Linked DNA regions of Homo sapiens. The protein of the gene in region 2 purifies or fractionates together with the protein of the main gene of each other region. This does not show direct contact. Each region holds a gene or a part of one and is shown on either strand. Other genes may lie near its edges.

Region 1 (3,577 bases), on a different chromosome or scaffold from region 2:
TTCCCTAATTCTTAGCCTATCCTCAGGCTTCACTTCCACTGTAGACCAGGGGCCTGCCTCATGCTTCCCTTCCCACCAAAGACAATAATAGGAATCACATACCTGTTAGCACAGGGGAGGAAGAACTCCGCTCCACTCTCCCCTCTCAGATTCTGCTGTTTTCCCTTTCAGAGAAGTCAGCCATTCAGCAAGCATCTGTAGAGCATGTGTTGTATGAAAAATGCTGTGTTACAGCATCAAAGGATACACAAAAGGAAAAAATAAGGCTCATGCCTTTCTGGAGTTCACAGTTAAGCAAGGAATACGACCTTATATGTATAAATCTAATATGACTAGTGAATGCTTTGGGAATAGTGATCAATAATATGCTATGGAAAGGAAAGTGATTAATTCTGAGGTGATCTGAAAGTGCTTCTCCTGAAGGGAAATGGGATTTTGGGCCAGGATGTAAAAGATGGGCATGATGACAAGAGATTAGGGGAGAGGGGATGCATTGATGGGAAGAAACCAGTTCAGACAAAGAAAGATTCAGCAGTTCTGGCTGAGAAGTTTGCTGCACTCTATCACACGCATACAGCAACAAATGCTACTTGCTCTTACCAGTCAGATGCTTATAGGGCAGGATTTTACAAGTTTTTGACAAGGATTTAGCTCTTTTTCAAAATTCTCATTAGGGAGGCCTTTCTGCCTCCAAAAACAAAGTCATCATGGAAATCAGTTCCTCTGTATGTGACGATTGATCCATCTCTGGCCTGAAATAATGACTGCAGGAGGCTACCATTTTGAACTACTTGTAGCCTGAGACCTTCTCATATATTTGGCAGGTCTGGCCTCTTCCTCAGCCAGCTTGAAATCCTCTCTGAAACATGCAACCTTCTATTTTCTTCTCCTTTAATTCCTCTTCATTGCAGAACAATAGATACTAGTGATGGAGCTTAAGTGCACATCAGACTCTTGCCTGTTTCCTTCTGAGAGAAAATACCGTCCCCTCCCAGATGTTTTCTGTTTAGAATTGTACAGAAATATTTTCTCCCAGTATAAATCCCCGACAAATATAGAGGCAACTTCCCATAAGCCTTCAGTAGCCTTTTCCTTCCTTCAGAATGAACAGAGCTAATTCCCACTCCCTATCCTACCACTAACACACATTTAAAATCCATATATGTAACACACAATTTCATTTAGCTTGATGGATTTTAGCAACTTAACTGCATAGCAGTCTAGACACCTTCCTTTCTCTCCCCGTGTTTCAAAGAAAATAAAAATGCTTAGGTGAAAACCAAATCATTATTGTTTATTCCCCATTAGATATTGTTATTTTGTCTTAGAGGTTGGTTGGATGGCTATGAATGTTATTTTATCTTTCCCCCCAAATATTTCTTAAGCCTGGTTGATTAAGAAATAAAGCTAAAACATAGGCGTTGGGAGAAGTGAAGAGATTCCTCCAAATCCCAATTAAATACTTTGTATTATTTGGAAAACTTTTTAGAAAGACAAGTGAATACAAAACAGTACTTGGGCACCCTTTTCATAAAGGGAATGCCATATTTAGATGTTATTTAATTTGGGGAATATGCAGGCAGAGAGGGAAATATTTCCAAATGAAATACTTCTTTTGTACTGCTTTGCTCCAACAAATACTGAAATTTCTGAACAATGCATAGTCTCTTATATTGTCACTGTGCCAGGACTGCATTCTTGAGCTTCCTCCCTCTCCTGGTCTCCTGCACAGCAGCCAGACCTTAGCTGACTGGAGAAGCATCTCATGGCAAGGCGGTCTGCTCCTTGCATCCTCTTCATCATCTGCCTTATTTGTAGTTATGATGAGTAAAAAATAAAACAAAGTTACTCTCACCACATAACTATTGTGGTTATTATATACATATTTTTCCTATTGAATAAATTTCAAGAACATTATCAGTAAGCTTTTGGGAAGGTTTGTTAATCAATCATTTTTCTCATCCTTGCTTTAGAGAATTCTGACAAGTTAAGTGAACTTGTAGAGACTGTCTGCCTGAGTTAAAACCACAATGTGGAGTGTGTTTCTGCTGCTGGCTTAGTTGATGCTATCTCCAACAAATGTTGCTTGCTCTTACCAGTCAGATGCTGACAGGGCAGGATTTTACAAGTTTTTGACAAGGATTTAGCTCTTTTTCAAAATTCTCATTAGTGAGGCCTTTCTGCCTCCAAAAACAAAGTCATCATGGAAATCAGTTCCTCTGTATGTGACAATCGATCCATCTCTGGCCTGAAATAATGACTGCAGGAGGCTACCATTTTGAACTACTTGTAGCCTGAGACCTTCTCATGTATTTGGCAGGTCTGGCCTCTCCTCAGCCAGCTTGAAATCCTCTCTGAAACATGCAACCTTCTATTTTCCTCTCCTTTAATTCCTCTTCATTGCAGAACAAATAGATATTAGTGATGGAGCTTAAGTGCACATCAGACTCTTGCCTGTTTCCACTTTCTTTCTGTGAGACCTTGGAAAAGTTAACCTGTTAAAAGTGGGTAGGACCTGCAAAGCTATAGAAAGATAGCCAACATTTCTGCCTTAGAGACAGAAATGTATATCTGTTCATTGCATAGATTTAAAATATAGTAGAGACTATAAAGAGAAACCCTTGGAGAAATAAGATTACTGGTGGGGATATTTCCCCCGGATGCTGAGTTAGAGACTTCTCTGGTTCTCACAGTATTTTCAGGGAACTTCATGTCTGATGTGTAACATAATCACTATGAGATGGTGTGACAAACATTACTGAATTGCTGAGGAAATTGCTCAATGCATGGAACCACAGTATTGGATATAGGCTTGATTCTGTGGAATGCAACTCATAAGTCTTTTTTAGCACCTTTCTACAAGCACACATTTAAGCTTATACAAAATAGAATTGACTTTCCACAAAATGTGAAGATACAAATAGCTAACAATAATCAAATTTTTGCTGTGTGCCAGTCATTGTACTGTGTTTTATAAGTATAAAATTAGTCTTGGCTGGGTGCAGTGGTGCACACCTGTAATCCCAGCACCTTGGGAGGCCGAGGTGGCTAGATTGCTTGAGGCCAGGAGTTCGAGATCAGCCTGGCCAACATGGCAAAAACCCATCTCTACTAAAAATACAAAAATTAGCTAGGCATGGTGGTGTGCATCTGTAGTCCCAGCTACTTGGGAGACTGAGGCACGAGAATCGCTTGAACTCACGAGGCAGAGGTTGCAGTGAGCTGAGATAGCGCCACTTCCCTCCAGCCTGGGCAACAGAGCAAGACTCTGTCTCAAAAAATAAAATAAAATAAAATTATTCCTCACATCTGTGCAATGAGGTAAATACTATTATTATCTCTAAGTTACAGAAGAAGGAACCAAGTCACCAAGAGGGTACAAAATTTGCCCAAGGTAGTAGAGTGAGGTTTTCACCCCATACTGTCTGACTGCAGAGTCTTTAAGTCACTATACCATGCCATCTCCTGAATAAAAAGAGGCTGGGAATGGGGAAACAGAGGCAAGAGTTAAATGTTCTATATCTGAAAATATCATCCAATGAATTTATTTCATTTTAACATTTATTACTATTTCAGT
Region 2 (3,577 bases):
GGAGAGGAGGTCTAGTCTCTGCCACTTTCTTGAGTGGTAATCTTGGGCAGGTCATTTGTTTCTTCCTCAGTTGATCCCCCGTTTTAAAAAGATAATATTTCCAGTTTCCTTCACAGAGATGTTATGGAGATAAAATAAGCTAATGGTGGTTTAAAAATTACTTTCATGGCTACACAGTGTGCTCAGATATGAGGTCCCAACACAGAGTTTCATCTGGCATTGGTGGAAAATGAAGCCTGGGGTCTCTGCTCCTTCCTAGTTGTTTGTGTGACTTTGGACAAGCCTCTTGATCTCTTTGAGCCTCAGTTTCCCCATTTGTGCCATGAGGTGACTGCCACCCTGATCACCTTTCAGAGAGGTTGTAAGATTAAAGTGAGACCCTGGATGAAAAGAGATTTTGTGATCTTAGAAAGTTTCTATTATTCCAAGCTACCAGGATTTTTACACACAAAAGCCATAGCCAGTGATTTTTCCCACTAGATCATTGAAGCTTACTCTTTTTTAAGGAGCAAAACTATAAAAGAAATGTTTAAAAACTATTTTTGGATGGGAATCTTTCTGAAACGAATGATATGCTTCTGAGCAAAATATTAATATACAGCTCAGAAAGAACCTCTGGTTTGGGACTAGGGGTTGTTGAGTTCATACCGGTGTGTACAGAGCGCCTGCTTGGTGAGAGTGGGACCACAAAAGGTTCTTTCTCTCAAAAGTGTTACCTCCCAAAGAAGAGACCTGGGGTGGGGGAGGGACCTAGTGGTGGGCAGAGGGAAATTGCTGGGGGAGAGCCCACTCCGGGAGTGCCCTGCCTCAAGGTTCCAAGTAGCAACACTGGCACTGCAGGAAGGCTCTTAAATCCTGTTCAAGGCTCTGAGTGGGAAGAGCCAGTCCTACCCGGTCAGTTACTGTGCTTATAGTAGTGTGAGGCCACGGGGCTTGTGAGACTCTAGGGCAGTGGGCCCCAAACTACGTGGTTCCCAGCTGTTGGGCTTTGGGGGTTCATGTTTCCACCTACAATCATTGCTGTGTCTTCTGCCTGGTAGACAGTAGTCACTTCTCTTTTTTTTCTTTCCTTTTTCTTTTTTTTTAAGTGGTTACCTAGATATGACATAAAATTTACTTGTATGTAACAGCAAATTTTTCAGTCTATAGTTTTGTAGCATGAGTACATTCTTTGTATTTATTGTTGTACAACCATCCCAGTACCCATCTCCAGAACTTTTTCATTTTCCCCAACTGAAACTCTTTTACCCATTAAGCACTATCCATTTCTTCATCCCCCCAACCACTGGCAACTGATATTCTGCTTTCTCTTTTATGAGTTTGACTACTCTGGATACCTCATATGAGTGGAATCATGTAGTATTTCTCCTTTTGTGGCTGGCTTGTTTCACTTAGCATAATGTTGTCAAGGTTCCATGGTGTAGCATGTGTCAGAATGTCCTTCCTTTTTAAGGCTGAGTAATATTCCATTGTATGTATATACCACATTTTGCTTATTCATTCCTCCATTGATGGACCCCTGGGTTGCTTCCACCTTTTGGCTATTGTAAATAATACTGCTGTGAACATGGGTGTGCAAACCAGGAGCAAAAGGTGAATGCTCTCTGAGTCTCTGCTTTCAGTTATTTTGTGTATATACCCAGAGGTGGAATTTCTGGATCAAAAGGTAATTCTATTTTTACTTTTTTGAATAACCCCCCATAACACTTTCCTCAGCAGCTGCACCATTTTATATTCTCACCAACAGGGTGCAAGAGTTCCTGTTTCTCTACATCTTCACCAACAGTTGTTATTTTCTGCTTTTTGTTGATTAGGTTTGGATTGGTTTTATAATAGCCATCCTAATGAGTGTGAAGTGGTTTATCATGTAGTGATCATTTATGCTGGGCTCAAAGAGCAGTCCCTCCAAATCTCTGGGAAAACAGACATCTGAGTGTGTTAGAATTGTGCATAGAGGCTGGGCATGGTGGCCTACACCTATAATCCCAGCACTTTGGGAGACCAAGGCAGGAGGATTGCTTGAGGCCAGGAGTTCAAGAAAAACCCGGGCCACATAGTGAGACCTCGTCTCTATTAAAAAAAAAAAAAAATTGGCCTGGGCACGGTGGCTCATGCCTGTAATCCCAGCACTTTGGGAGGCTGAGCCGGGCAGATCACGAGGTCAGGAGTTTGAGACCAGCCTGATCAACATGGTGAAACCCCGTCTCTACTAAAAATACAAAAAAAATTAGCCGGGCATGGTGGCACGTGCCTGTAATCCCAGCTACTCAGGAGGCTGAGGCAGGAGAATCGCTTGAACCTGGGAGGCGGAGGTTGCAGTGAGCCAAGATTGCACCACTGCACTCAAGCCTAACGACAGAGCAAGACTCCGTCTCAAAAAAAAAAAAAAAAAAAAAAAAAAGAGAGGAACCTGGCAGGAAAGGGGCTGGAACACCTTCTGCAAGGTGTGGGGAGGGAGACTGAAGGGACAGGGATGACTCCTCGTTTGTATGTTTTTCCTCTGGAAGTCTTGGGACAAGGAGCAAAGGGTGAATGGTGCCTAGGCAGCCAGTCACTAACCAAGTAGCCTGAATCTTAGTTTCCAGCCTGCGCACTTGGAGTTTTGTTGTTTTTAAAGGCTCAGAGAGATGTAATTAGCAGCAGCTCACCTTTGCAGGGTGTTTGCCATGTACTAGGAGCATCACGTGCAGTATTTGGGTTAATTCTCACAACCACCCTATGGGTGGATTCTGTTATCACCTTTTCACAGATGAAGAAGCTGAGCCTTAGAAAGGTAATGTCTGCTGCCTAAGGTCACACAGCTTGTAAACTGCAGAGCTGGGACTGGAACCCAGGTGTCTGATCTCAGAGCCCACGCTTTGGGCCAGTGTGTAGTTTGTCCTCATGAGAATGGGAAGAAGAGAACGCTTTTTTGTTTTGTTTTGTTTTTTAATGAGTTTATTATTGAGCACCTTCAGGCACCACTTTGCTGGATCCCTTCACAAACATCATCTCATTTGATTCTCCCTATTTTACCTATGGGAACATGCCTACCTATTTTACATATGGGAAAGCTGATGGCCAGGAAAATGAATGGATTGCCAGTGGTTATGATGCTAAGAGACAGAGCTGGAACTCAGCCTGAGGATGTTGATTCATTCCAGTGCTCACAGCTCGTTCCATTGTGCTGTGAGCCCTGACCAGCTCCCACCCCACCCCCATGGAAAGAAGCTGGTAGGTCAGCTGTGAAGTCTGCAAAACTCCAAGGACTATAGCCACTGCTTTCCTTTCACATTGCTGTCCCTTCTTCCTTTAATTTCCCCACCCCCAGACCACCACCTCCACACCTAGAAGCCATGTGAGTCCATCATCTTGGATCAAAGTGCTTGGCACATAGTAGGTGCTCAATAAATATGCGTTGAATGTTGTTTGAGGGCTCGGTGTGCTAGAGGCAATAGAATCTCAGCCAAGATTGTGTTCCTAAAGAGAAACACAAGTAGAATGCAAATATTGTTGTTTCCTCCTCCTTCTCCCAGAGCAAACCTCCGCTTTCCAACACCCAGATGCCAGGGACTTGAAGAAAAGATTGTCCTTGCTC
Region 3 (4,357 bases), on a different chromosome or scaffold from region 2:
AGAGGAGACTGCACCACTGCACTCCAGCCTGGGCAACAGAGCAAGACTCTGTCTCAAAAAAAATAAATAAAATAGAAACATAGGCCGGGCACGGTGGCTCGTGCCTGTAATCCCAACACTTTGGGAGGCCAAGGCAGGCTGATCACCTAAGGTCAGGAGTTCGAGACCAGCCTGCCCAACACGGTAATTAGCTGGGTGCGGTGGTGCATGCCTGTAATCCCAGCTACTCTGGGAGGCCAAGGCAGCAGAATCATTTGAACCCAGGAGGCAGAGGTTGCAGTGAGCCAAGATTGTGCCACTGCACTCCAGCCTAGGTGACAGAGAGAGTCTGTCTCAAAAAGAAAAGAAAAGAAACATAATTACCTATGGCTGTTCCTGAAGTCGCCCATGATGTAAGAGGTTTTGTGTGGCTGCCCCCTACAGAGCAGCGGTTGGCAAACTTTTTCTGTGAAGGGCCAGAAAATAAATATTTTAGGCTTTGCAGGCCTCTGTCTCAAGTACTGAATTCTGCTCTTGTAGCAAGAAAGCAGCCCGGGGCAGAACTTAAGCAAATGAGCAAGACTGTGTGACACTAAAACGTTATGTATAAACACTGGAATGTGAATTTCATATGATTTTTCACATGCCATGAAAAGTTCATTCTTCTTTTGATTTTTCCCCTAACCATTTAAAAGACATAAAAACCATACTTAGCTCAAAGGCCGTACAAAAACAATGCCCCCCTGCTTAAAGGAGGCAGAATCCATTCTTTGATTTTAGGACTAGAGATATGAAAAGCTATTATTATTTCAGAGAGGTGCCTAAGGCCTGACCGACGGCAGAGAGAAGGGAGGGTCAGTTAATCTCCCTCTGAGCATTCCGGGGTGAGGAGGGGAAAAAAGACCTTCCTTGGTGATGGATTCAGAGCCCTTATTTATTTTTGTTTGTTTTTGAGGCAGGGTCTTTCTCGTATCTTAATCTGTTTTCTTACCTGTAAAGCGGTGGCAATAATCCCTACCTTGAGCGATTATTAAGAGGGCTCAATGAGATAAAGGATGGTAAAAGATTTTGCAAAATGCGAATGTTTACTCACTTAATTGTTTCCACAGATGCGCGCTTAAGATCGCGCACTGAGTTTACTCCTCTGGGGAAGGCTTCTACGAAGTTTGATGGGACACTGTCCCTTTAAATCCTCCCCAACCACTTAAAGTGGTTGGACGAATCAGCACATGCGCATTCCTTTGAGGGGCCGGCACCTGGAGCAACAGCCTTCCCAGAGCCTGTAGAGGGGAGGTTAAAGGTCCTCCCACACAGTACTTTACGCAAGCGTAAATCATGATTGAGAGCCCTATATCATGCAGAGAGCCCAGTCCCTTTTTCGCGCCCGAAGGCTCCGCCCCGCGCAGCCAATCAGTAGGCCTCGCCCTTTGCAATAGCCAATGACAGTGAGCGTAGGGGGCGTGGCTGGGCGTCCGGAGGCGCGGCCTGGCGCCTAGAGAAGCGGCGGGGCGAGCCGGGGGCTCTAGTGAACAGCGGAGCCGGACGGGGATCGCCGGCGGGCGGCAAGCGGAGGCGGCCCAGGCCCGGCGGTCTCCGAGATGTCACGATGGCTGTGGCCATGGTCAAACTGTGTGAAAGAGCGGGTCTGCCGCTACTTGCTGCACCACTACTTAGGTCACTTCTTCCAAGAGCACCTCAGCCTGGACCAGCTCAGCCTCGATCTGTACAAGGGCAGCGTTGCCCTGCGAGACATCCACCTGGAAATCTGGGTGAGGAGCCAGGCCCGAGTCCAGGAAGGTGCGGAGGGTGGGAGCGCAGCGACCTGAGGCTCCCTGCGGCAGGATCGGGCTGGGGGATCAGGCACCGGGCGTAGAGAGGCCAGGGGAATCTTGCCCTCTCCAGGCGTCAGAGGCACCCCGGCTGGCCTCTTCAGTTCCTTACCAGAGCCAGAAACTGAGCGGGAAGGGGTTTCTGTCTCCACGGGAGGAGAAACTGAGGCTGGAGAGGGCAAGATCACCTGTCTGGAGAATGCAAGACAAACTCGTCGAGTTTGGGGGCTGAGTTAAGGAGGTTGGCTCTCGGGCTGAGGAGGGGCTGGGGAGGGAGCGTAGGAACTGAGCTGGGCCAGGGCAGTGACAGACTTGGGCCTGCGCAGCTGGTGGGGGAAGCTGGTAGGGGTCCGGAGCCCTGGCGAGGACACCTGTGGATCATGTGCCCTGACCTCTTGACCCCACGGTCCTGAGCCCGTAGGTGGGATCAACAAACCACCGGATGTGTATGTCAACAACCGCGTCAGTACGTCAGTACCAGTGTTGATCAACACCTCGTGTGCCTGGGTCGCTGCCTACTTCCTGCTTTTGGGAGAGTGGGATGGGCCAAGTGGGTGTCTAGGGAGGGACTGGATGGCCCCCACCTACATCTCCCACCGACCCCCCCGGCTCAGTGTCCCTGCCTGGAGGGAGGCCCTGGAGGAAAGGTGGGGAGATCTGGCTTCAAGCCGGGAGGAGGCCAAGGGAGATGCTAGGGAGGCCAAGAGGTGTAAGGTCAGAGGCTTGAGGCTGGGAACGGTGAGGAGCCCTGACTCACAGCTCAGCTGACCTGGGGAGCTTTGAAGGAGCCACCAATTAGAGGCGCGTCCTGGTCGATCCACCAGGTCCAGAGCAGCAGGGGTGGGCATGGAGGCAGGGACTTCTCAGTTTTGTGGCTGGACTCAGGGGGCTGCTAATCTGGGCAGAAGAGCTAGGCTTTGGGGGTAGGCCAGGCCCTGGTGAGCAAATGTGGGGTAGGATAATCGTGGGCCCTGAACTGGGGGCACCCCCCAGTGGCCTGCTGTCTGTGAATTCTGGTGTAGGAAGCCCTCTCTGACCTCTAACCTTAGCCTCAGCCTCTAAGGCCGTCTCTAGGCTGCCCCTTTTTTATTTTTATAGAGACAGGATTTCGCTATGTTGCCCAGGCTAGCCTTGAACCCCTGAAGGGATCCTCCCACCTCAGCCTCCCAAAGTGCTGAGATTATAGGCATGAACCACCATACCCAGCCCTAGGCTTCCCCTTTTTACTTTCAGCTCCAGAAAACGCCCCTACTCCTGTTCCCTGCCCTCTTGTTGGGGATTGAATTGGCTTCTCTAGGGCCCTGGTGGAATGCAGGCGCTTTCTTGATAACCAGCCCCTCCTCCCTCCCAGCTCAGCCTGCAGGCCCCGCCTTGAAGGCCCCCAAAGAAACTGAGTATCTGGGGCCTCTGAAGTGGCATGAAAAGAAAGAGGCCCGCATCCCAGTCTCAGTCCCTGTTGTATACTGGGTGACTAGATTAGTCCTGTCTCTAGGCCTCAGTTTCCCGAGCTGTGGGTCTCTGGGTGAGGAATTTGGACTCCCATCTGCTCTGCCATGTGCTTTTTTATTCTTGGATCCAACCAGTTTACTGAGGCCCTTTCTGGGTGGCACCTGGGGTGACGGGGGAGGCAGGTGGGGTACAGCCCTCCAGGAGCTTCCAGGTTGGCAGGGGTACAACTCCAGCATGGACATTTTAGCCAGGGGCTCAGCCTTGTGCCTCACAGAGAGGCACAGCTACACTAGGTGTTTGGGGTTGGTGGTGGGGGGGGGGGGTCCCATCTGGCATTAGGTCAGCCCCTCTCTTGGACACTGTCCCTTTGAACTCTGCTCATCCAGGGTGAACATGGGTATTCTGGACTCTGCCATACATGTGCCCATGTTGTCCTGTGCCTGCAACACACCACCTTCTACCAGCGCCTATCCCCCCTCCCTTTATTCTTCAGCTTGCCCCTCCTCTGACGGCCCAGGCTGGGTTAGGCGTCTTCCCCACGGCCCCCCCACCAGCCCCCTCACCACCCCCAAGCACCTGCTCACCTCTTGAGTTTCATCCTAGTTGCTCTGAGTCCCTGGCTGGAGCCTAGCTTGGCTGGGGAATGAAGACATTTTATTTACCCATCTAGTCTCAGTGTCAGCATGTAGAAAGTGCTCGGTAAATATTATCTTGAATTAAGTGGTGAGGGAAACATCTGCTCTGGCTTGAAGGATTAGGCACCTTTGGGTGACGGGGTAGGGGGGCTGGCCTGTAGTAGGGGACAGCATGAGCATAGGTGGGACCTTGTAGATAACACGTGGAGGGACAGGGCAAGCCAAGGGTGCTCTCCAAGGCACTATGGCCAGATAAGGCTGTGCCAGCCTGTGGGATTTGGGGTTTCCCTGAGCTGGTTTTGTCTCTTGCTTGCTCCCAGTCTGTGAACGAGGTGCTGGAGTCAATGGAGTCACCGCTGGAGCTGGTGGAAGGCTTCGTGGGCTCCATCGAGGTGGCCGTGCCCTGGGCTGCTCTGCTCACCGACCACTGCACAGTGCGCGTGTCCGGCCTCCAGCTCACCTTGC

The links. The genes of interacting proteins can lie anywhere in the genome.
Region 1: the proteins of UBTD1 (region 2) and SHROOM3 purify together in Homo sapiens (co-purification; one study listed by BioGRID). This does not show direct contact.
Region 3: the proteins of UBTD1 (region 2) and ATG2A purify together in Homo sapiens (affinity purification with mass spectrometry; one large-scale study listed by BioGRID and IntAct). This does not show direct contact.

Annotation. Positions count from the first base shown.
Region 1 is NC_000004.12:76,742,706-76,746,282, forward strand, and holds part of SHROOM3 (protein Shroom3), read left to right. Parts: intron 1-102; exon of another isoform or gene 103-195; intron 196-3,577. UniProt on the Homo sapiens protein: Controls cell shape changes in the neuroepithelium during neural tube closure. Induces apical constriction in epithelial cells by promoting the apical accumulation of F-actin and myosin II, and probably by bundling stress fibers.
Region 2 is NC_000010.11:97,505,400-97,508,976, forward strand, and holds part of UBTD1 (ubiquitin domain-containing protein 1), read left to right. Parts: intron 1-3,577. UniProt on the Homo sapiens protein: May be involved in the regulation of cellular senescence through a positive feedback loop with TP53. Is a TP53 downstream target gene that increases the stability of TP53 protein by promoting the ubiquitination and degradation of MDM2.
Region 3 is NC_000011.10:64,914,356-64,918,712, reverse strand, and holds the start of ATG2A (autophagy-related protein 2 homolog A), read left to right. Parts: upstream 1-1,503; 5' UTR 1,504-1,577; coding exon 1,578-1,748; intron 1,749-4,212; coding exon 4,213-4,357. UniProt on the Homo sapiens protein: Lipid transfer protein involved in autophagosome assembly. Tethers the edge of the isolation membrane (IM) to the endoplasmic reticulum (ER) and mediates direct lipid transfer from ER to IM for IM expansion.